3 linked regions of the Homo sapiens genome follow. The protein of the gene in region 3 purifies or fractionates together with the protein of the main gene of each other region. This does not show direct contact. Each region holds a gene or a part of one and is shown on either strand. Other genes may lie near its edges.

Region 1 (7,151 bases), on a different chromosome or scaffold from region 3:
GGGAGGTTCTAGATTATTCCCATTTTGCAAATAGGGAAACAGAATTTGAGAACTGGAATAATCTGCGCAAGCACCTAGAGTTGGCAAGTGGTATTCTGGGATTCCATTCTGGGGGTTAGACTCATATGCTAAAATCTCTACTTTGATTTCTCCAAAGGTGCTTACCTTGACAGGAAAGAAAAGAACACTTACATTATAATGTCAAACTGACTTCATATTTCAGATTTCAAAAGCATCAGAAAATTGAAAGGTCTACATATATATATATACATATATATATATTTTCTATAGATTAGAATGATTGTGAATTTTTTTACATTTCTGATTTTTCATTCACTTGTCTGGCTGTGTCTATACATTTTTGTTTTTCAGAATTCCTTAACTTTGGAGGCAGTGAAACGACTAATAGCAGAAGGTAATAAAGAAGAACTACGAAAATGTTTTGGGGCCCGAATGGAGTTTGGGACAGCTGGCCTCCGAGCTGCTATGGGACCTGGAATTTCTCGTATGAATGACTTGACCATCATCCAGACTACACAGGTACCATGTTTTTTATAATTCTTAGTAACTCAATGTATCCCCTAGCTCATTTTCTATTTGGCAGACCTAATTTATTCTAATTATAGACATGTCTTACCAGCTTGGCTAGACACAGGAAGTCACCACCATTTACTCCATAAAGTAAGGCTTGCACAATAGGTCGAAGTAGCACTTATTCAGGACTCATATAGCCATCCATCCATTCATTCATTCATTTAACACACTTATTGAGTACATACCATGTGCCAGCACTGGGGATATAAGAATGACTCGAACAAACAGATTCTCTCATGGAGCTTTCATTCCAGTATAAATGCACCAACTAAGCTGACAACTTTTAAGGTCCTGTAATTTTTGCCATGATTACATAGCAAGTGCTAAAAAGCTTTTCTAACTGCCGGAGTTACCAAGAGCCTGTTCTCCTTTGTTTTATAGTATGGATTGAGTCTGTCTTAATTTGTGAATATTTTTGTCAGAATCTAGACCCAGCTTTTAGGAAGGAGATAATTTGACAAAACAGAAGTGCTTCTACTGGGTATTGGCAGTACTGTTTATGAGGGAAATGAAATAGAACAGATTATTCACATCAGTATTTCTTCACCTTAGACCTGTTGATGATGAATGTCACTTTAATTGTGGGAAAAGAAAGGCTAGAAAAAATTGCCTAATAGTGATTACATGTGCCTCACGTATACATCCCAGTGTAAAAGGCAGAGCTGGGCATGTTGTAACAAAACTCCAACAAGGAAAGCTTATCTAAGGGTATAGAATTACCACAGGGGCCAGGCGCGATGGCTCACACCTGTAATCCCAGCACTTTGGGAGGCTGAGCCAGGCAGATCACTTGAGCCTAGGAGTTCATGACCAGCCTGAGCAACATGGTGAAACCCTGTCTCTACCAAAAATACAAAAATTAGCCAGGCGTGGTGGTGTGCACCTGTAATTCCAGCTTCTTGGGAGGCTGAGACAGAAGGATTGTTTGAACCCGGAAGGCAAGGTCGTAGTGAGCCGACATTGTGCCACTGGACTCCAGCCTGGGCAACAGAGCAAGACTCTGTCTCAAAAAAAAAAAAAAAAAAAAAGAATTGCCATGGGAACTCCTGGTCACAAATTGTTATTAAGCAATAGGGCTCCCTGAGATGCTGGAGGAAAGACTTAGAATGGGGTAAGTATGGGAATCCTGTTTGGTTCATGGATAACATAGGAACTGTGCTGCTGAATAAGGTTGCCTTCTGTACCAGTTACTAGGGCTATGTAACAAATCATTGAAAACATAATGGTTTAAAACAACAACCACATTTATTTTGCTCACAAATCTGCAATTTTGGTAGAACTCAGTGGGGACAGCTTGTCTCTGCTCCACTCAGCACCATCTGGGCCAGTTTGGAGGTTGGAATCATTTGAAGGCACCTTCATTCACACGTCTGAAATTATTACTGGCTATTGGCTGGGATCTTAGCTGGGGTTGGAACCCCTTCATGTGGCCTGGACTTCCTTATAACATGGTGGTTGGCTTTCAGTGAAGTATCCAGAGAGGGAGAGAGAGAGAATGTGCCAATTGGAAGCTGTGCTGACTTTTATGACGTAGCTTTGAAAGTCACACAGTGTCACTTCTACCGTATTCGGTTTGTTAAAAGTGAGTCAATAAGGCTGTCTCATATTCAAGGAGAGGGCACATAGATACCCACTTCTCATTAAAGGAGCATTGATGTCACATTGTAAGAGGAACATGTGAGATGGCTTATATTACTGGGGCCATCTTTGGACAATCCAGTTGGTTACACCTGCCATTGGGCCTAATTGTTAGGGGTTTCTAAGGGATTCTAGATTAACCTAGAGCTTTTTCCCCTGTATTTTTCTATATCTAGTTTCTGAGAATAATGAAATGTATTCCCATTAAGGACTATCTTACCCATTTTTATCCTAGAATTCATCTCCTCTGGGGGTAAACCCTGTGGTAAACATAGATGATCAATATTCTAAAGGTCATGTAATTCAACCAGACACCCCTTGGGATAATTTTCTCCATGACCCCACCACTCTGAAGTGCTCATTCAGCCTATTCTTGGATACTTGTAATAGGAGACAGAGATGTGAAGAGTTAAGAAAGTTTTATCTGAGCAGCAAGTATATCTTTAAAATCTTAGGAGTGGATTCAAAATTAGAGGCAAGAGGATTCCCAGAACAAACAACCCAGGTTTCTACCCAGTCTTGGGTAGTGTTCCCTGGCAGAATGCTGATATGCAAATATATTTGTCACTTTTCACTGATCAGACTTTCATGGTGGCATAGGTGCCCTTCCTGCTGGTCTCTGGGTGTGGAGCCTCATTCTGAGGTACCCCAAAGTTTGCCTGGTTCATTTAAGAAGCAGATGTATGTGATTCAAAAATATGTCAAAGGAAACAGGACAGAGACTGGAGGAAACTTTTGTATTGTTTGCCTCATTGATAGAGGTTATAATTTCCTCCTGCCAATTAATTTATGCTTTATTTATGTTCTATTTTGGGTTCTGTGTTCATAGATTATTTAATTTAGCCATAGCATACCAGTGATGGGAAACTCACTGTCCTCTGAAAGAGGCCATTCTATCTTTGGACCATTCTCATTAAAAGATGGTTTCATTATTTTAAGCCAAAATCTGCCTTTCTGTAGACTTTACATATTGGTCTTAGTTCTACTTTTTGAAGGTCATACACATAAACTTGCTTCTTATGTTTTATAATAACATTTTATTTCTGAAAACCTCCCTCTTCCCCCACTGAGTCTTTCATCTAGAATAAGAATTCCCTTTTCCCTTGGCCATTCTTTCAGGTCCTCATCCTCAGCAGGCCTCCGAGATTTTTAGAGAATCTGGAGATGTGAATGCTTTTTTGCCCCATGGAGCATTGGGGCCACAGCTCAAGGGTTGAGCAGGAAGAGGGGTACTGTCACTGTTGTAAGTCTTGAAGTATCAGGCATCTGGGTACCTTCTGGGGAACCCACAAAACCAATACACATGGCCTTATTTCCTTGTATCACTCAGCCTCAGAAGATAATCCCAGTGCAATGTATTTGTCAAGGAAAAGCTAAAGGCATTCTAAATTAGCTTGGCTCTCGCAACAAGACTGTGATGTATCCCCTCCTACCCAAAATAAAAATTATGGCTTGGACATGGTGGCTCATGCCTGTAATCCGAGCACTTTAGGAGGCCAAGGCAGGAGGATTGCTTGAGCCCACAAGATTGAAACCAGCCTGGGCAATATGGCAAGATCCCATCTCTACAAAAATTGTTTTTTAAAAATTAGCCAGACATGGTAGCATGTGCCTGTAGTCCCAGCACCTCAGGAGGCTGAGGTGAGAGGATTACTTGAGCCTGAGAGATTGAGGCTGCAGTGAACCATGATCGTGTCACTGCACTCCAGCATGGGAGAGAGTGAGACCCCATCTCAAAAGAAAAAGAGTTATGTATATTTTAATAAGACTTCCTTTAGCAAAAGTGAAATAAATAATATAAAATGAATCATTATTTTTGCCCAATCAACCAGAGTTCTCTTTGTTTTATATGGCTTTGAAGGAAAATAACAACAAAAATAATGCGTAAAACAGCAAACACTTAATATAGTACTTAGTTGGTGTTGAATTCTCAGCACTTTGCATGTTTTCATTCATTTACTCCTTATGAGGTAGGTATTATTGTTATTCCTGTTTTACAGAAGAGGAAACTAAGGCACCAAGAAATTAAGGAACTTGTCATTTGCTTGTAGGTGGCAGCGTGGAGTACAAATTCTCAGATTGTGCTTCTAGAGTATGTGCTTTTAAGCCCTACACTGAACTACCTCTCACCAGCCCTGGATACAAATCCAGGCTCTGCTACTCGAATATCTGAAACTGTCACTGTGCCTCTCTGAGGCTTATTTTACCCATCTATAAAATGGGTTTTCTGGTCAGGTGCAGTGGCCCACACCTGTAATCCCAGCATTTTGGGAGGTCAAGACAGGAGGATTATTTGACAGTAGTTCAAGACCAACCTGGGCAACATTGCAAGACCCTGTCTCTACAAAAAATTTTTAAAAATTAGTTGGGCCTGGTAGCATGCACCTGTGGTCCTAGCTTCTCAGGAGGCTGAGGTAGGGGGGGATTGCTTAAACCCAGGAATTCAAGGTTGCAGTGAACTATGATTGTGCCATTGCAACTCCAGCCTAGGCAACAGAGCAAGACCCTGTCTCTGGAAAAAAAAAAAAATTTCCTAACAAAGTTGATCTGAGGTTAGAGATAACAGCTACTAAGTGATCAATGACTAACACAGTGCCCAATACAAAAACATAGATAATAAACAAAGCTGTTATTTTATTATTGTTCAGTTTGCTTCCTTACTGAGATGAATTTTTCCCTCTCTCCCATAGTGTTCTATGAAATTTGAGAAAACTTAATTTTTGGCTAATTTTTCTATATGGTATATATAAAAATATGTTAAAACATACTTTTTAAATCTATGGTGTATTTGTAGGGATTTTGCAGATACCTGGAAAAACAATTCAGTGACTTAAAGCAGAAAGGCATCGTGATCAGTTTTGACGCCCGAGCTCATCCATCCAGTGGGGGTAGCAGCAGAAGGTATTTAAACATTTTTACAAAATGATGTTTTTATAATTTATTTTGCAGTTTTATTTTAATCACCATCTCAATAACTTGACTTTAATATATTCATTAGCCTCATTGCTTAACTGTAAAAACAATGGGTAAATTCTCTTGGCAACTTTTAAAGATTCTGGTTTTACATTAGGTTAAGGAAATAAAATTATTTAGACAATTTAGAATGTAATACCTAGCTAAAAGAAAGAAATTTCTTAAACTGGCAATATTATTTTTCCCTCTCATTTGCCTTTTTATACATAATTTTTACCCTGCTATTCATAAACCTCATGACCCCCTTCCCTCTCTTGAACGCCCACGTCAAGCTGCATTTCTGAAACATTCTCAAACCAATGGGACTCTCTTATGTAGCTGAAGGCATATGATGCTGATGGTGACAATGATAATAGTAATAGCAGCAATCATTTGAGTGCTGATTATGAACCAGACACTTATGTATTTACTCATTCTATCCTCACAGCAACGTGTAAGGTATGTACTTTTATCTCTTTACCCTGAGATTATAATGTGAAAGGAGGAGTCGCAATTTAAGCCTAAGGACACTAGTACCAGGGGTCAGCAAACTTTTTCTCTAAAGGGCAAATAGTGGATATCATACACATTGCATATCACATGATTCCCATCACCACTACTCACCTCTCCCATGAAGCAGAGAAACATCCATCGACAATGCATAAACACAGGAGCATGGCAGTGTTCCAGTAAAACTTTACTTACAAAATGGGCTGTAGTTACCAACCCCTGCCCGTAACCATGTTACATAACCCTCTTTTTTACTTGAACACTTCCTCTGTTATGATGAATTTTTAATCATTCTAGAGTATCAGTATTAGTAGTAGCTTAGAATTACACATATTGAATATTAATGAAAAGTCTTATTAGCTTTACAGAGCTGGATGAGTTTATAGAGTCCTATCTTTGCCCATCAGGAGCTTCCAATCTAAGACAGAAGCACTCGTGGGGACAAACGTGTGGCCGTGAGGAAGGGTGCATAGCCGGGGAAAATCACCCGGTGGCATCAGCCCCAGGTTCAACTCAGGAGGGCATAAGATTTTTAGTCTTTAGCTTTGCAGCTCAAAAATGTGCTTTTTGTCAATAAAGCAAGAGAAAAGTTATAGCTCTGGGGGATAGATGCACATGAACTACATTCACAAGAGAATGATGTGGTATAAACCAGCATATCAGCTTGTCATTTACAGTTAGTGGATGTACAATCAGAACTAAATCGTGACCGTGTTCCTCTGCCGCCCCAGGGCAAGTCAGATCCTTTGCTCAGAGCATGCAAAGTGCACGTATGTGGCTAAGTCTGTCTGCTGAGCTGCGTAAATTTCTTCATTTTGGGCTGACTGCCCTGCTTCTGGTTGATACAACCTTCAGAGATATGTTAACATTATCAATTAAGGTACAGATTTTTTTGCCCTGGCCTTGGAGCCGTATCATTTCCTTAAAGTGAGTGATGTTACTGATTTAAGCTTATGGTTCAAGTCTCAGAGTTTGATGGGATGGGATGGAGTGGAACTCAAGGCTACTCTCTATCACCTGTAACGCGTGAGACATTTAGAGATCATAATGTAAGTGTTTAACCAACACATGGTAAAATATTCATGATGAGTGAATGGAATCTTCGTAAGGAGTTGGAAACTATTGCAGTTTCTGAATTTCGCCCGAGGAGATGTTTATCCTTTAATCTTCCAATTTTAAATATCTGGTGGGGAACGTAAGCAGTAACTGTTAAGTATATGCAGAGAACGCATTGCATTTTTTTGTGCACATTTGTAACAGAGAGAGAGAGTGGCGATCTGCTCTTTGTGCCCCAGCCAGCCTTCAGAATAGTGTCGGCGAAGCTAGTGCCCAAGAAGTATTTGGGGAGAGTAAGAATGATCTGATTGTTTAACTCACAGGGGTGGTATAATGTTGTTCATTCTAAGTAAATCGCTCATTTATTTGTGGTAACGTATTTTACACCAGCTTGAAGGAAG
Region 2 (7,386 bases), on a different chromosome or scaffold from region 3:
GTGCTCGGATTACAGGCTTGAGCCACCACACCCGGCCGAAGTTCACAAGTTCAGTAACTTTATTTGGCAAATAAATATCTTTTTTTTTTTTTGAGACAGGGTCTCACTTTGTCTCCTAAGCTGGAGTGCAGTGGCGCAGTCACAGCTCACTGCTGCCTCAACCTCCTGGGCTTAAGTGATCCTCCCAACTCAGCCTCCTGAGTAGCTAGGACTACGGTGTGCACCAATACGCCTGGCTATTTTTTTTTCTTCCTTTTTGTAGAGATGGGGTTTTACCATGTTGCGCAGGCTGGAATAAGTACTTTCAAAGGGTCCTTTAATGACAAAACTATAGAGGTAGAGAACAGGTTAGAGGTTGCCAAGGAACAGGGAATGAGGGGTCTCTGAGGGACACGGGGATCTCAGTGACAATGGGACAGCTATGTCCTGTCACAGTGGTCCAGGAATTTACACACTTTATGAAACTGTCACATAGCCTCCTTGCCCCAGTGCAGGGGGAAACTGGGGAGCCCTGAGCCAGGCCTGCAGTCTATAACAGCATCAGCACCACAGCAGTGCCCACTTCCCGGTGTGGATGCCATGCCATGGTCACATGAGATGTCACCATGGGGGACAGTGGTTGAAGGGTTCACAGGACTGTATGGGCTGATTTTGCAACTTCTGTGCATCTATACCCATTTCAACATGACAAGTTAAGAAAAAGCCTGTTGTGCATCTATACTCATTTCAACATGACATCTGGCACAGTGCTAACACAGGTCTGCCAGAATGCACTGAATGAGGCACTGAAAACAGCCCATTTCGTCCTGTAAAATCACCCCTGGATAAAGTCAGCTTTTAGCAAATGGCTTTTACAAAATTAAAACAAAACCAAGGCCCATTGGGGCAAAAATGGGTTTCAGGGTCCAGGGATCCTTAAACTGAATGCAAAATGGGGAGGATCACATTGTGGGAAGAGCATTCACAGCTTTGATTCTATTTCCAGAGGCCTGTGCCTCCCTCCCACAAGGAGTTAAGAACCTTCACTTCACAAACTACAGATCACAAACCCAACAGACTATTTTACAACTATATAACATTTATGAACATATACTATCAATGAATGTATTTTTTTGTTAATATTCATTAAAAAAAAATGTCACAACTTGGGTTTAGAAGATTTTTTTTTTTTTTTTTTTGAGACGGAGTTTTGCTCTGTCGCCCAGGCTGGAGTGCAGTGGTGTGATCTTGGCTCACTGCAACCTCCGCCTTCTGGGTTCAGCAATTCTCCTGCCTCAGCCTCCCAAGTAGCTGGGATTACAAGCATGCAACACCGCACCCAGCTAATTTTTGTATTTTTAGTAGAGACGGGGTTTCACCATGTTGGTCAGGCTGGTCTCGAACTCCTGACCTCGTGATCCACCTGCCTCAACCTCCCAAAGTGCTGGGATTACAGGCGTGAGCCACCTCGCTGGGCCAGAAGTTTTCTTAAAAAACAATACAAAACAAAACCAGAAACCCAGGACTCCCCAGCCCTCCTGTGGGTGTGGGTTTAGGAAAATCCATCTTTATTGGCCCTGCACTGCCAAGTGTAATGGACCTGACACTCCGCACCAGCTCTGCCCTAACTGGTGAGGGCCAGTAAGGAACAATACAGATGAGCGCTCTGTCCACCAGGCAAACTGCAAATTATTCTCAGTGCTAAGAAGGGAAAAAACTGAGCAGCAGAAAAATGTGTAGCCCCTTTTCTGGAGCTTTCTTTCTTATGAAGAGAGGTCTGGACTACAACGGGGGGGCTGTGTGTGTGAGGGATTCACAGCTCTAGCTTTGGATCTCCCAAAGAGGGGTCCGGAGCAGACTGTGGCACCCCAAGCCAGTCACTGAATCCCCATATTTTATGGTTAAGCAGCCAAACATGCCAATTCACTCTCTAGGCTCTGCTAGATAAACAATGCCCTTACTCAGTTACCAAAGAGGAATTAAAGCCTGTTTCTCAAGTCACCATGAGAAAGCAGAAAAGAGAGGAAGTCACTTCCGTATTAGGTGCTCGCAGCATTCATCCATGAAGCGTTTCATGATTTTCTTAAAAAATATTACTTGTTCTCAACAAAACATAGACACAAGGCTCGTCTACTCTGCACTGCAGAGGACAGAAGAGCTAAGTATTAATAAATAATCCTTCTTTGTATTTTCCAAGTTCTCTCCAATGTAAACAACTCAAGCCCAGGAAAATCCAGTATTTAACAGTGTACCAACCCTGTGCTTTCATGGGCACCGGCTTTTACCCACCCGGTGCGTCTGGCGGTGGCTGTCCAGCAGGCCGGGCACCTGCCGCCCACGGAGTTGTCCCACTGGGCACCGCAGGGCTCAAGGGCGATGGCAGCACTGGCAGCTTCTGGTCAGAGCTAGCTGATGTCCCCGCTCTGCAGACATCAGCCCAACAAAATTGCATCTCGCTGACCACAAACTGGCCACGTGGAAGTCAGCTCGAAGCTCTACCCTGAATCTCTCCTGAACTCAAAGGCTCTGAAAGCTGCCTCGACCCATGAAGGTGCACAGAGGGGCTCCCGCGGGCTGCCCACAGCCCGTCCCGGGTGCGGGGTCTGAGGGCGCAGCCGACCCCACCCTGGGCGGAGGGCGAGGCTGGGGCTCCGGCTTCGTGCCCCACGGCTCGCAAGGACCCGTCAGTACCGCCCGCACCGCTGACCCCAGCACCGAGCCCCTCACGGCTGACCCCAGCTCCTCACGGCTGCCCCCGGCCCTGCTCCCTCACGGCCGACCCGGGCCCCGTTCCCCTCACGGTCGCCGCTGGCCCTGCGCCTCTCACGGCCGACCCGGGCCCCGCTCCCCTCACGGCTGTCCCTGGCCCCAACATCCGGCACCTGCGCTCATTCCTCCCGGAACGAGCCGCCCGGGGCACCGCCACCCGGTCCGCGTCCCGGAACGGGAGACCCGGGGAAATCGGGGCGCCGGGGCCTCTGGAGGGCGCTTGCGCCGCGCCCGGGCTCCGCGCCGTCCTCACCGTGGAAGTCGCCCGTGTCGGCCACCACGGTGGTGAACTGCTTGAGCTGGTCCAGCGCGGACTCCATCCTCTGACGCTTCACGGGTGAGCTCGACATAGCAAGACCGAGGGGTCTGCGGCGGCGGCGGCGGCGACGGGACGGGCGCGCGGACGGCCCACAATGCCCCGCGGGCGGCTGCCAATCGGAAAGCGGCGCGGGAGGGCGAGGCCCGCTGGTCCCTGCGCGCCTGGACGAAGCCCCGCCCCCGGGGACGAAGCCCGAGCGCCACTGCCGGCCGCGCACCGCAGCTGCGGATCCTACAGGCTGGGTCTCCCCAGGTCCTCAGCAGCCGCCGCGGACGGGCCCGGGAAAACACCTGCACGACACGGGGCGGCTGGGCCTCGCCTCCTTCCTGCCCCGCGGGACGCACCGGGAGGGCTGGAGGAGATGGACCTGGCCCGGGTGCCGACTCTGCGGGGCTGAACCCGCCAGGGCCGAACCCGGCGATGCAGGATCCATGGTGGGGCCAGGACTGGGGTCGGGGGCCGCTGCAGGAAGCAGGGGAGGGAGCGGCGGGGGACGCCCTGCGGGTGCAGGAGGCAGAGCAGGGGGCGGCTGCAGAGCCCGGGCGCCGGACGCGGCGGGGAACCTGCTTCTGGGAATCTGTTCCCCTGAGTCCTAAGCCCAGAGGTGTCCGGGGGACCGAACGGCGAGGCAGGCGTAGGAGGCCCAGCTGCCCTGCTTCTTACCATCGCTGACTTGCAGAGTTCCTTGTATATTCTGATCAAGTCTCTGTCGCTTGTGTCTGCGTTGCAGACACTGTAACCGCCCCATGGGTTCGCCTTGCCAGCTGCCGGGACAGAGTCTATTGTCAAGACAGGGGAATTGCAATAGAGAAAGCATAATTCACACAGAGCCGATTGTTCGGGAGACCAGAGTTTTATTCCTCAAATCAGTCTCCCCAAAACTCGGGGATCCCAGTATTTAAGAATAATTTGGTGGGTAGGGGGCCAGTGAGTCAGAAGTGCTGACTGGTCAGCTAGGGATGAAATCACAGGGAGTCGAAGCTGTCCGCTTATGCTGAGTCAGTCCCTGGGTAGAGGCCACACAACTGGTTGGCAGGTCCAGGTGGGGCCATCCGGTTGTCAGAAATGCAAAAACCTGAAAAGACTTTTTTTTTTTTTTGAGACGGAATCTCGCCCTTGTTGCCCAGGCTGGAGTGCAGTGGCGCGATCTTGGCTAACTACAACCTCCGCCTCCCGGGTTCGAGCGATTTTCCTGCCTCAGCCTCCCGAGTAGCTGGAATTACAGGCGCTCACCACCACGCCCGGCTAATTTTTGTATTTTTAGTACAGACGGGGTTTCATCATGTTGGCCAGCATGGTCTCGATCTCCTGACCTCGTGATCCGCCCACCTCAGTCTCCCAAAGTGCTGGGATTCCAGGCGTGAGCCACCGCGCCCGGCGGAAAAGACTTCTTAAAAGGCAAATCCTAGGCTGACGCGGTGGCTCAGGCCTGGAATCCCAGCACATTGAAAGGCCAAAGCAGGCGATCACTTGAGGTCAGGAGTTGGAGACCAGCGTGGCCAACATGCAAAACCCCGTCTCTACTAAAAATACAAAATTAGCCAGGCGTGGTGGCACATGGCTGTAATCCCAGCTACTTGGGAGGCTGAGGCAGGAGAATGGCTTGAACCTGGGAGGTGGAGGTTGCAGTGAGCCGAGATTGTCCCTCTGTACACTAACCTGGGCTACAGAACGAGACTCCATTTAAAAAAAAAAAAAAGGCCAACCCTAGGTTCACAGTAGTGTTGATATCTTGGGGAAGTTGCAAATCTTATCTTATGACCTCCAGAATAATGGCTGATAATATTTAGACTTCCAGCCCCTCTCATTCTAACTTGGTGGCTGGTGGCCTTTCATTCATTTTACAAGAACAGTCTAGTTTTGGGGAAGGGCTATTATTTAAACTATAAATTAAATTCCTTCCCAAGACTTGTTTGGCCTATGGCCAGTAATGGACAAGGACCGTTTGAAGGTTAGAAACAAGATGGAATTGGTTAAGTCTGTTATCTTTCACTGTCATAATTTCCTTAGTTATAATTTTGCAAAGGTGGTTTCAATACTTCCTCTCAGCATGTGTTCCCTTTTCATTTTAATAGTGTCTTTAATGAACGTTAGCTTTTTATTTTGATTAAGTTCAATTTATCAAGTTTTAATTTTATATTTACTCCTCTTTTTTGGTATCTTCTCTAAGGAGTCTTTGCTTGCTCCAAAGTGACAAATTTTTTTTTTTTTCTGGTGAGATGGAGATTTACTCTTGTTGCCCAGGCTGGAGTGCAATGGCGCGATCTCAGCTCACCGCATCCTCCGCCTCCCAGGTTCAAGCGATTCTCCTGCCTCAGCCTCCCGAGTAGCTGGGATTACAGGCATGGGCCACCATGCCCGGCTACTTTTGTATTTTTAGTAGAGACGGGGTTTCACCGTGTTGCCCAGGCTGATCTCAAACTCCTGACCTCGTGTTCCACCTGCCTCGGCCTCCCAAAGTGCTGGGATTACAGGTGTTAAGCAACTGCGCCCGGCCAACGCCCAGCTAACTTTTGTATTTTTAGTAGAGACAGAGTTTCACCGTGTTAGCCAGGATGGTCTCAATCTCCTGACCTCGTGATCCGCCCACCCTAGTCTCCCAAAGTGCTGGGATTATAGGCGTGAGTCACCACGCCCAGCCAACAAAAATATTTTTTTTTTTTTTTTTTTTTGAGACGGAGTCTCGCTGTCGCCCAGGCTGGAGTGCAGTGGCGCAATCTCGGCTCACTGCAGGCTCCGCCCCCTGGGGTTCACGCCATTCTCCTGCCTCAGCCTCCCGAGTAGCTGGGATTACAGGCACCCGCCACCTCGCCCGGCTAAATTTTTTGTATTTTTAGTAGAGACGGGGTTTCATCGTGTTAGCCAGGATGGTCTCGATCTCCTGACCTCGTGATCCGCCCGCCTCGGCCTCCCAAAGTGCTGGGATTACAGGCGTGAGCCACCGCGCCCGGCCTCAAAAATATTTTCTTATGATGTCTTGGTTTTCAGCTGTTATGTTAAGAGTCTTTGAGGCCACTCCAGTTTGTTTGTTTTTTTTTTGTTGTTTTTTTTTTTTTGAGACGGAGTCTCCCTCTGTCGCCCAGGCTGGAGTGCAGTGGCACGATCTCGGCTCACTGCAAGCTCCGCCTCCCAGGTTCATGACATTGTCTTGCCTCAGCCTCCCGAGTAGCTGGGACTACAGGCGCCCACTACCACGCCCGGCTAATTTTTTGTATTTTTAGTAGAGACGGGGTTTCACATGAGCCACCGCACAGGGCCCCCTTGATTTTTGTCTCTGTGACCTAGAAGTGGAAGGTAGTTTTTCTCTACCGCGCCTGGCCCCCTTTATTTTTGTCTCCGTGACCTGGATATGGAAAGTAGTTTTTCTCCACCTGTTCCAGCATCTGTTGAGAGGACTTTCTTCTCTCCATTGAAATGCAAAAATAGGAAATATACATCACAGAAGAAGGTATAGAGCAGGTAGCCATCTTTTGTCTTCCCTTGCCACACTGGAAGAACTGTCTTGGGCCACATGTAAAATATACTAACAATAACTGATGAGCTTAAAAAAAATTGCAAATAAAAAATCTCATGTTCTAAGAAAGGTTGCGAATTCGTGTTGGGCCACATGCGGCCTGCAGGCCAAGGGCTGGACAAGCTTGGTGGTATACAGTATTTATTAGGGAAATGCAAATGAAAACCACCATGAGATCTGTCCACATGGATCATAGTGAGAACAAAAGACTGGCAACACCAAGTGCCAGTGAGGACATGGAGCTCCAGGAACACCCATGCGCTGCTGGTGGGAATGAAAGTGGAACAAAGGCTGGGTACGGTGGCTCGCGCCTGTAATCCCAGCACTTTGGGAGGTCGAGACAGGTGATCACCTGTGGTCAGGAGTTCGAGACCAGCCTGGCCAACATGGTGAAACCCCGTCTTTACTAAAAATACAAAAATTAGGCTGGGTGCAGTGGCTCACGCCTGTAATCGCAGCTCTTTGGGAGGCCGGGGCAGGCAGATCACGAGGTCAGGAGATCGAGACTATCCTGGCTAACACAGTGAAACCCTGTCTCTACTAAATATACAAAAAATTAGCCGGGCATGGTGGCAGGTGCCTGTAGTCCCAGCTACTCGGGAGGCTGAGGCAGGAGAATGGCATGAACCTGAGAGGCAGAGCTTGCAGTGAGCCGAGATCGCGCCACTGCACTCCAGCCTGGGCGACAGAGCGAGACTCCATCTCAAAAAAAAAAAAAAAAAAAAAAAAAAAATTAGCCAGGCATCGTGGCATGTGCCTGTAGTCCCAGCTACTAGGGAAGCTGAGGCAGGAGGATTGCTTGAAC
Region 3 (7,151 bases):
AACCTTGTGCACAATGGGCTATTATATGTGGATTCAGAGAAGGCGGAAGAAGAAAGAATTAATTCAGATCATGGAGTTTAATATTTTAGAAGAAGCATCCGTAGTAAAATGTTCAGGGCTGCTGTTTAAGCTATTTAAATCCACATTTTGGATACAGACTGCATCTATAATCAATCTATAAAGAAGAGAAGAATGATGTTTTGATGCACCTGTAATCACAGAATCATGACATACTGGGTCTGGGCAGTTAGCATTTTACAGAGAAGGAAACAGGGCCCAGAATGTTATGTGATCAGACAAAGGTCACAAAGCCAGGATGACCGACCGCCCAGTATTCAGCTCTCTGGTCAGTGCTGCTTTTGTCTCATCAGAAGTCTCCCCAGGGGAAACGCCCAGTGGGGTCTCCCCTAAGTACTGGCTTCACCCACACTGATTAGTGGTTCCCCTTCCCTTCTAACACGTCTTTTATTTCTCTCTAGGTATCTTTAAACTATTTAAAACCTCTGAGTGACTTAAAAAAAAATTCCTTTCCCTTTGAACATGAAAAGTTACCTGATAAGTTCCATTCACTGTTTGAGCGAGATTTGCTTCCCAGAATGTTTGCCTTATTTCCAGGAAAGCAATGTCAGCTTTGCATTCTGATATTTGAGGAAAAATCAAATCTATGATTTTGAAAACTATGAAAGTACAATAAACTTTTATCTGGGTAATGAGGTACTTCAATTGTGATTCTATATGTGGATTATCAATTTTTCCAAAAATTGGAATTACACTGTTCTTGGATGACATAGAAGGTATTCCAGGACCTGACAGGCCTAACATATGATAGTGTGACCTCAAACCAGCTCATAATTTCAAATGCAGGACCTGATGGTAGACGTGCTGGGCTCAAATGCTAGCTCTAATTTGGTGGTGAGATCTTGGACAAGACTGCTAACTTCCCTGACTTTCCATTTCCTCTTCCTTAAAATGAGGTCTGCTGTGAGGATCAATTGAGATGGTGAATGTAAAAAAACACTATACAAACTACAAACCACTATATGGATATTAGTGGCTATTTTCTTGTTAGCTGAAGCAAAGTCAGCACCAATTCTATAACCATCTCCCCTCTACAGAAAACAACTGCATGGCCCAGTGAGTGGGAGCAAAGGCTCTGGGTTCAAATCCTGAGTCAGCCATTTACCAGCTGGGTGACCTCAGGTAAGTTACTTCTTCGTCCTTTGGTTTTCCCACCAGAAAAATGGTGTTAAATACAGCATTTACCTCATGGGGTTCATCTGAGAAGTAAATGAATTAAAACATGCAAAATATTTAGTGTCTACAACAAAGTAATGTTCAATAAATATCAGCTATTATTATAAGAGCCTAGAGATATATTACAGCCTACTTTCCTCCCTGGCCTTGACCTTTTATTCATTCATTCATTCTTTACCTTTTATTCATCAAACATTTCCTGCACACCTGACATATTCTAACTAATGTTTTCCCTGGTCCTCATCTGTTATGACTTTCATTTTTCAACTTTTTAAGTGTGATCTAACAAGCCACCTCAAAGCCTTTGTACAATGAAGTGATATATAAACATTCACTGTGTTTGTGTGGGCAAGAGCGATCCAGTCGTTGAAACTCTAAAATTACTTCAAACTGCTCTTTCACCCACACTCTGTGCACACTGCAAAAGAAAAGTGATCCTCCAGAATGATGTCTTGAGTACTTCCATTGTTATTCATTAACACTCAACTATTCATTAACTTTAAAAAATTATACGTGTATGTGTGTGTGTGTGTTTGTCCTACTATGTGCCAGGCACGCTATGGTCAGGCAGAGTCCAGATGGTGAACAAAACAGTCCTTTCTCTGCAGAAGTATACAGTCTAGCAGGGCAGCCCATCAAGAAAACAGCTACTAGAACACAGTGTGGTAAGTGCCAGGAGGAGGAGGCCCAGGGTGCCAAGGGAGTGCGGAGAGGGGCATTGAATCCAGAAAAAGCCAACCATCCCCTCACACAAGAATCGCTCAGCACACTCTATGCATCAGATGCCCATGCTGAAAGGGAAGGACACGTGTTCCAGGCACAGTGAAGGGTATGGTGAAGACTGGGACGACCTAAGACAGGAAGGCCAAGGGAATGGAGACACCTACCGGTCCAGAGCACCACTCGTGGGCATGCTCCGTGCAAAGCCGCGGACCCCAGTCTGCTGGAAATACGGAATGCTGAAGATGTTGGCAGCAATGACAGCCACAGAGTCTGAAGGGTTCACAAAGAACCCATGCTTGCCCAGAATCATGTTTCGATCCTTGGGGAGAAGAGAGGATCAAAGAAAGACCTTTTAATCAAACTATAAGAAATCAAACTATCTTTCATGGGGGTTTTATAAAATGTAAAACTATAAAATTTGAAATTGATCTCCTTTCCATACTGCATTTTTAACACTGGGTTTTATTTTCAATGAGTTTATACAGTACCATTGGGCCGAAGGCACCTCCATGCCAAAAAGTTAAAACTGTTTTCAATTAAAGTCCAAGCACAACCTCCTTTTGAGCTGAGTCCTCTGTTCTCCCTCCAGAGGCCAGCTAACTTTAACCTCCTAGACTTTTTTCAGACTCTGGAACCAATCATCTTTTTCCCAGGGGAGGGGAAAATGCAATGAGAGAAGAAATATTGGCTGTTTACATAGTTTGGTAGGTCTACTGGGTAAACTGTGTACCACAGTCTGTGTACCACAGTAACTGGGAGGGTGGCCAAAAAACACTCCCAGAATGCACTCATCACAAAGATGTACTACAGAATAATGTCTGCTGGAACCCCTTTAATTTCCCAACATTTTGATAAGGGAAAAATCATTTTTCAGGAAACAGTGGATTCTAGCTAATGGTAACACTAGCAACAACAAAAATATATTTTCAACTAAGTAAATGTATACAGTGCCTACCATCAGTGAGATACCAGGGATATAAACCTAAGACACATCTCTTCCTTGTCTGGTACATAGTCACCCTTGTAAATAAAACAGCTTATTTCTAAACATTTTAATGGTAGAGAATGATTAAAATGTTAATTCTCTCAATATCATCTTCATATAGGCAATGAAATTACAGCTTCAATATTCAGCTCATGTGAATGAATGAATGGGTGTATTATAAGACCAAAATCTTGTCCAGAGATTAAATAAGTAGCCAGCTGCTGGTTGAGAGCAGAAACCCACCTTAAGACAGGCATCTAGAACTCACCCAGCTCAGGAAATACCAGTCATTCTATCATAATCAGAACCTAATCATCGTGCCATTGTTAGCAAGTATGGATGTCTGAAATTAAATGTGTGGGTTTCATTTCAATGACTCCTATTCCTGTTCAAGAGGGGCTTCTAATAATTTAGTTCTGACCTCGGGTCAGAATGAGGGATCCTTAACAGTTATTCCCTGGGTCTGGCAGAAGCAGCCCACTTTTTTCCCCATCTGCAGGATCAGGCCTGGCCTGCACCAGAGTTCACTTAAATGCACTTATACCCACCCCATCTCCATCAAAGGCAGCCCCAAAATCATGCTCTCCTGACTTCATGGTCTCCACCAGGTCAGCTGCATAGGTGAGGTTGGGGTCAGGGTGGTGGCCTCCAAAGTCCTCCAGAGGAACGCAGTTAACTGCCGAGTTCGCAGGGGCACCGAGTTCTTCACAGAGGATCTTCTTTACATACGGTCCCACAACTATATACAGCATGGAATAAATGTATGCAGAATCAGAAAATAAAACTCCTTAAAGTATGTGAGGATTCAGGGGTGAGGTGGATGCATTCTGGGGAGAAGAATGGCATGAGAAACAACAGGAATGTGTGAAATGTGTTCAGGGACTAGTGGAGAGATACGCCTGACTGGAGAAGAATGTTCTCTAAAAAGGAACAATGAGAGATTATGTTGGAAAAGGTGGGGCCAGTTCATGAAGGGCAGAGTGGGGAAAGGAAAGGAAACCAACCATTATAAAGGCCCTGCGGTATACCTGTGCTTTCCCATTCAGTCCTTCAGAAAAGCTCAGAAGGTTGTACAGCTTAGAGCTTAAGAGCCTGGACTCTGGAATCAGAGTGTCTGGGTTCAAATCCCAGCTCTGCCAGTCATTGGCTGTATAATAATTTTGGGAAAGTTATTTAAACTCTCTGTGCCTCAGTCTCTTCCATCTGCAAAATGAGGGTAGTAATGCTAACTACTTAACAGGATTGATGTAAGGATTAAATGAGTTAATAGCTATGAAGTACTGAGAATAGTACCTGGCAGATATGTTATAAATGTTTATATTATGATTATCACCTGCAGTTTACAGATACATTGGAATGTTGGTGTTCTGAGGTAAAGACATTTGCCCAAACTTACATGGCTAGGAAAAGTGGGAATTGGGATTCAGAGCTGTTATCTTTATATTATGACAAGCTAGCTGACAAACTGATTAAAAAAACACAAACAGGCCAGGTACGGTGGCTCACACCTGTAATTTCAGTACTTTGGGAGGCTGAGGCAGACAGATCACATGAGGTCAGGAGTTTGAGACCAGCCCAGCCAACATGGTGAGACCCTGTCTCTACTAAAAAAAAAAAAAAAAAAAAAAAAAAAAATATATATATATATACACACACACACACACACACACACACACACACACACACACACACACACACACAGAGACACAGACACACACATGCATACACAAAGATTTGCCAGGCCTGGTGGCGGGCGCCTGTAATCCCAGCTACTCAGGAGGCTGAGGCAGGAGAATCGCTTGAACTTCGGAGGCGGAGGTTACAGTGAGCTGAGATTGCACCACTGCACTCCAGCCTGGGCAACAGGGCAAGACTCCGTCTCAAAAAAAAAAGAAAATAAAAAACCCACCACCAAAAACAAACAACAGGAGAAGCCAGTTACATATGTTTACAGTGACATTTTATATAACTACCAAGAACACGCATCTCTGAAATGCTGAGAGAGTATTTTCATCAAGGATGGTACTAATCCCAATACAGTACATGCCCCAGAGGTCATAACACTGTAGAATAAATGTGTCCTATGAGGCATCACCTATTAAGCAGGTTACTGACACACCACAGAATGAGGTCAAGGCAGCCAGGGCTGTGAGGGATATAGAAACGAAAGCATTAGAGGAACAGCCAAAAGACCTGGAGAAAAGTAGTCTTCTTCCGGAGAAGCTCCTCTTACCCAATGCCCTCCTCACATGCCCCATTATCCAGCCAGCCCAGGCCTCTCGTTTCCCTAATGTGACATCCATTTTTAAGCCTTCATGCCTTTGCCACAGCCACCGACTCCATGAGAATGACCATTGCTTGATTTTTCATCACTCTAGATCTTTCTTTCATAAGAACTGAGTTGGATGCCACTTCTTCCAGGAAACCTTTCTTTATACCTAGTCAAATTATGCCTTCTTCCAACCCCAAAGAGAATACTTGAAATTCCAACTCTCATTTTGTTGGCCTGGCAGGAGTTAGTTTTTTAGGGATTTTTTGTTTTTTTGAGACGGAGTCTTGCTTTGTCGCCCAGGCTGGGGGGCAGTGGTGTGATCTCCGCTCACTACAACTTCCGCCTTCCGGATTCAAGCTAGTCTCCTGCCTCAGCCTCCTGAGTAGCTGCGATTACAGGCATGTGCCACCACACCCGACTAATTTTTTGTATTTTTATAGAGACTTTTATAGAGATGGGGTTTCACCATGTTGGTCAGGCTGGTCTTGAACTCCTGACCCCATGATCCACCTGCCTTGGCCTCTCAAAGTGTTGGGATTACAGGTGTGAGCCACCGCGCCCGACCCCGGGGTTAGTTTTTTACCCACTTCGTCTCCCCAAACATTGCACATTCTTTGAAGAAAGTAATCTGCCCAGTTCCTGCCTATTCCCCAGGCATGCATTTTGCAGGTATGCAATACACATCTGTTGAATGGTTTAAAATGACAGAATCGCTTTTGTCTGAGTAAGGAAGTAGATCCATTCTATGGGAGTCCAGAGGCCAGCTAGGACCCAAGGGGAGAAGTTTCAAGGATGGAAGGTTTTAGTTCACCAGCAGAAGACTTTCTGTGGTTTGCAGTGTCACAGGAATCCCCGAATTGCATCACTAAAAGGGTTCAGTTGCAGGCAGAAAGGCTTCTCCAACCAGGCAGATGTATGTGTATAGGTTTCAGGGATTCTCATATACCTACATGTCTGAGAAAACCCTCGTGGTTCTGGTTCACAGTGATAGCTGCCCTCTCTATGGACCTGACCACACAACCCACGGAGGAAGAAGAGAGGGCTGTACACATCATGTTGCTCCTGAATTTAATCCTCAGCTTGCTCTTGCCCTCTTCTAAGAAAACGAGCATTTGGGGGCAGGTGAGTGGGGGTGTGGGGCTCAGGAGTATGTTTATCACATCTCCCAAATGACCGTCCTCTCAGAAATACATGGGGGCATGCAGCAAGAATGTAAGGTATCTTCTGAGGGGGAGGGAGAGTCCACAACAGCAGTTGCATGTTACTCAGAACCTGATGCTTAAGGTGGAAACACTGACCTTCACACGAGCTTACCACGAGGAGTGTCTCTACTATTTTTGCTACATACAATTAGATTTTTATCTGTGTGAATATTGCTCTGGTTGCAAAATAACTCTATTTAAAAACCATCAGAGAGACTTGAGAAAAGGCTTGTTGAAGCATCATGATACACACAGAAGAGGGCAACTTCCTATCCTCAAGAGATGGGAATTGAAAAGAAATGATTGTATACCTCCATGCATAGCATCAATACGGATCTTCAGTCGGTTTGGCCCAGAAAGTAGTTCTTTCAGTGCACTGAAATCAAAGATGCTTCTCAGCATTGTAGCATAAGCTTCTACCGAATCCACAATTTCCACTGTGAGAACAAGCAACATCAAAAGATGGAAGGATTAAACACATTTAGAAATATTATATTCTGATGTGACTATATTGCTGTAAACCTGCTATTGCTATTTTAAAAGGACAATTATTGAACAGCTCCAATAATACGGCTGTTAAGTGATATCCGATACTATCTAATACTACCAATCCTTACCCAATACTAACAATTTTCCTGAGAGGTAAATGTTATTAGTCCTATTTGATAGATGAGGAAACTCGACGTGTGAAGGGTTAAGAAACTTGCCCACACAG

What was found.
Region 1: the proteins of PGM1 (region 3) and PGM2 fractionate together in Homo sapiens (co-fractionation; 2 studies listed by BioGRID). This does not show direct contact.
Region 2: the proteins of PGM1 (region 3) and TALDO1 fractionate together in Homo sapiens (co-fractionation; 2 studies listed by BioGRID). This does not show direct contact.

What each region holds. Positions count from the first base shown.
Region 1 is NC_000004.12:37,829,592-37,836,742, forward strand, and holds part of PGM2 (phosphopentomutase), read left to right. Parts: intron 1-372; coding exon 373-540; intron 541-5,026; coding exon 5,027-5,133; intron 5,134-7,151. UniProt on the Homo sapiens protein: Catalyzes the conversion of the nucleoside breakdown products ribose-1-phosphate and deoxyribose-1-phosphate to the corresponding 5-phosphopentoses.
Region 2 is NC_000011.10:743,194-750,579, reverse strand, and holds the start of TALDO1 (transaldolase), read right to left. Parts: upstream 3,117-7,386; 5' UTR 3,099-3,116; coding exon 3,002-3,098; intron 1-3,001. UniProt on the Homo sapiens protein: Catalyzes the rate-limiting step of the non-oxidative phase in the pentose phosphate pathway. Catalyzes the reversible conversion of sedheptulose-7-phosphate and D-glyceraldehyde 3-phosphate into erythrose-4-phosphate and beta-D-fructose 6-phosphate.
Region 3 is NC_000001.11:63,631,379-63,638,529, reverse strand, and holds part of PGM1 (phosphoglucomutase-1), read right to left. Parts: intron 6,874-7,151; coding exon 6,748-6,873; intron 3,702-6,747; coding exon 3,511-3,701; intron 2,297-3,510; coding exon 2,142-2,296; intron 1-2,141. UniProt on the Homo sapiens protein: Catalyzes the reversible isomerization of alpha-D-glucose 1-phosphate to alpha-D-glucose 6-phosphate. The mechanism proceeds via the intermediate compound alpha-D-glucose 1,6-bisphosphate.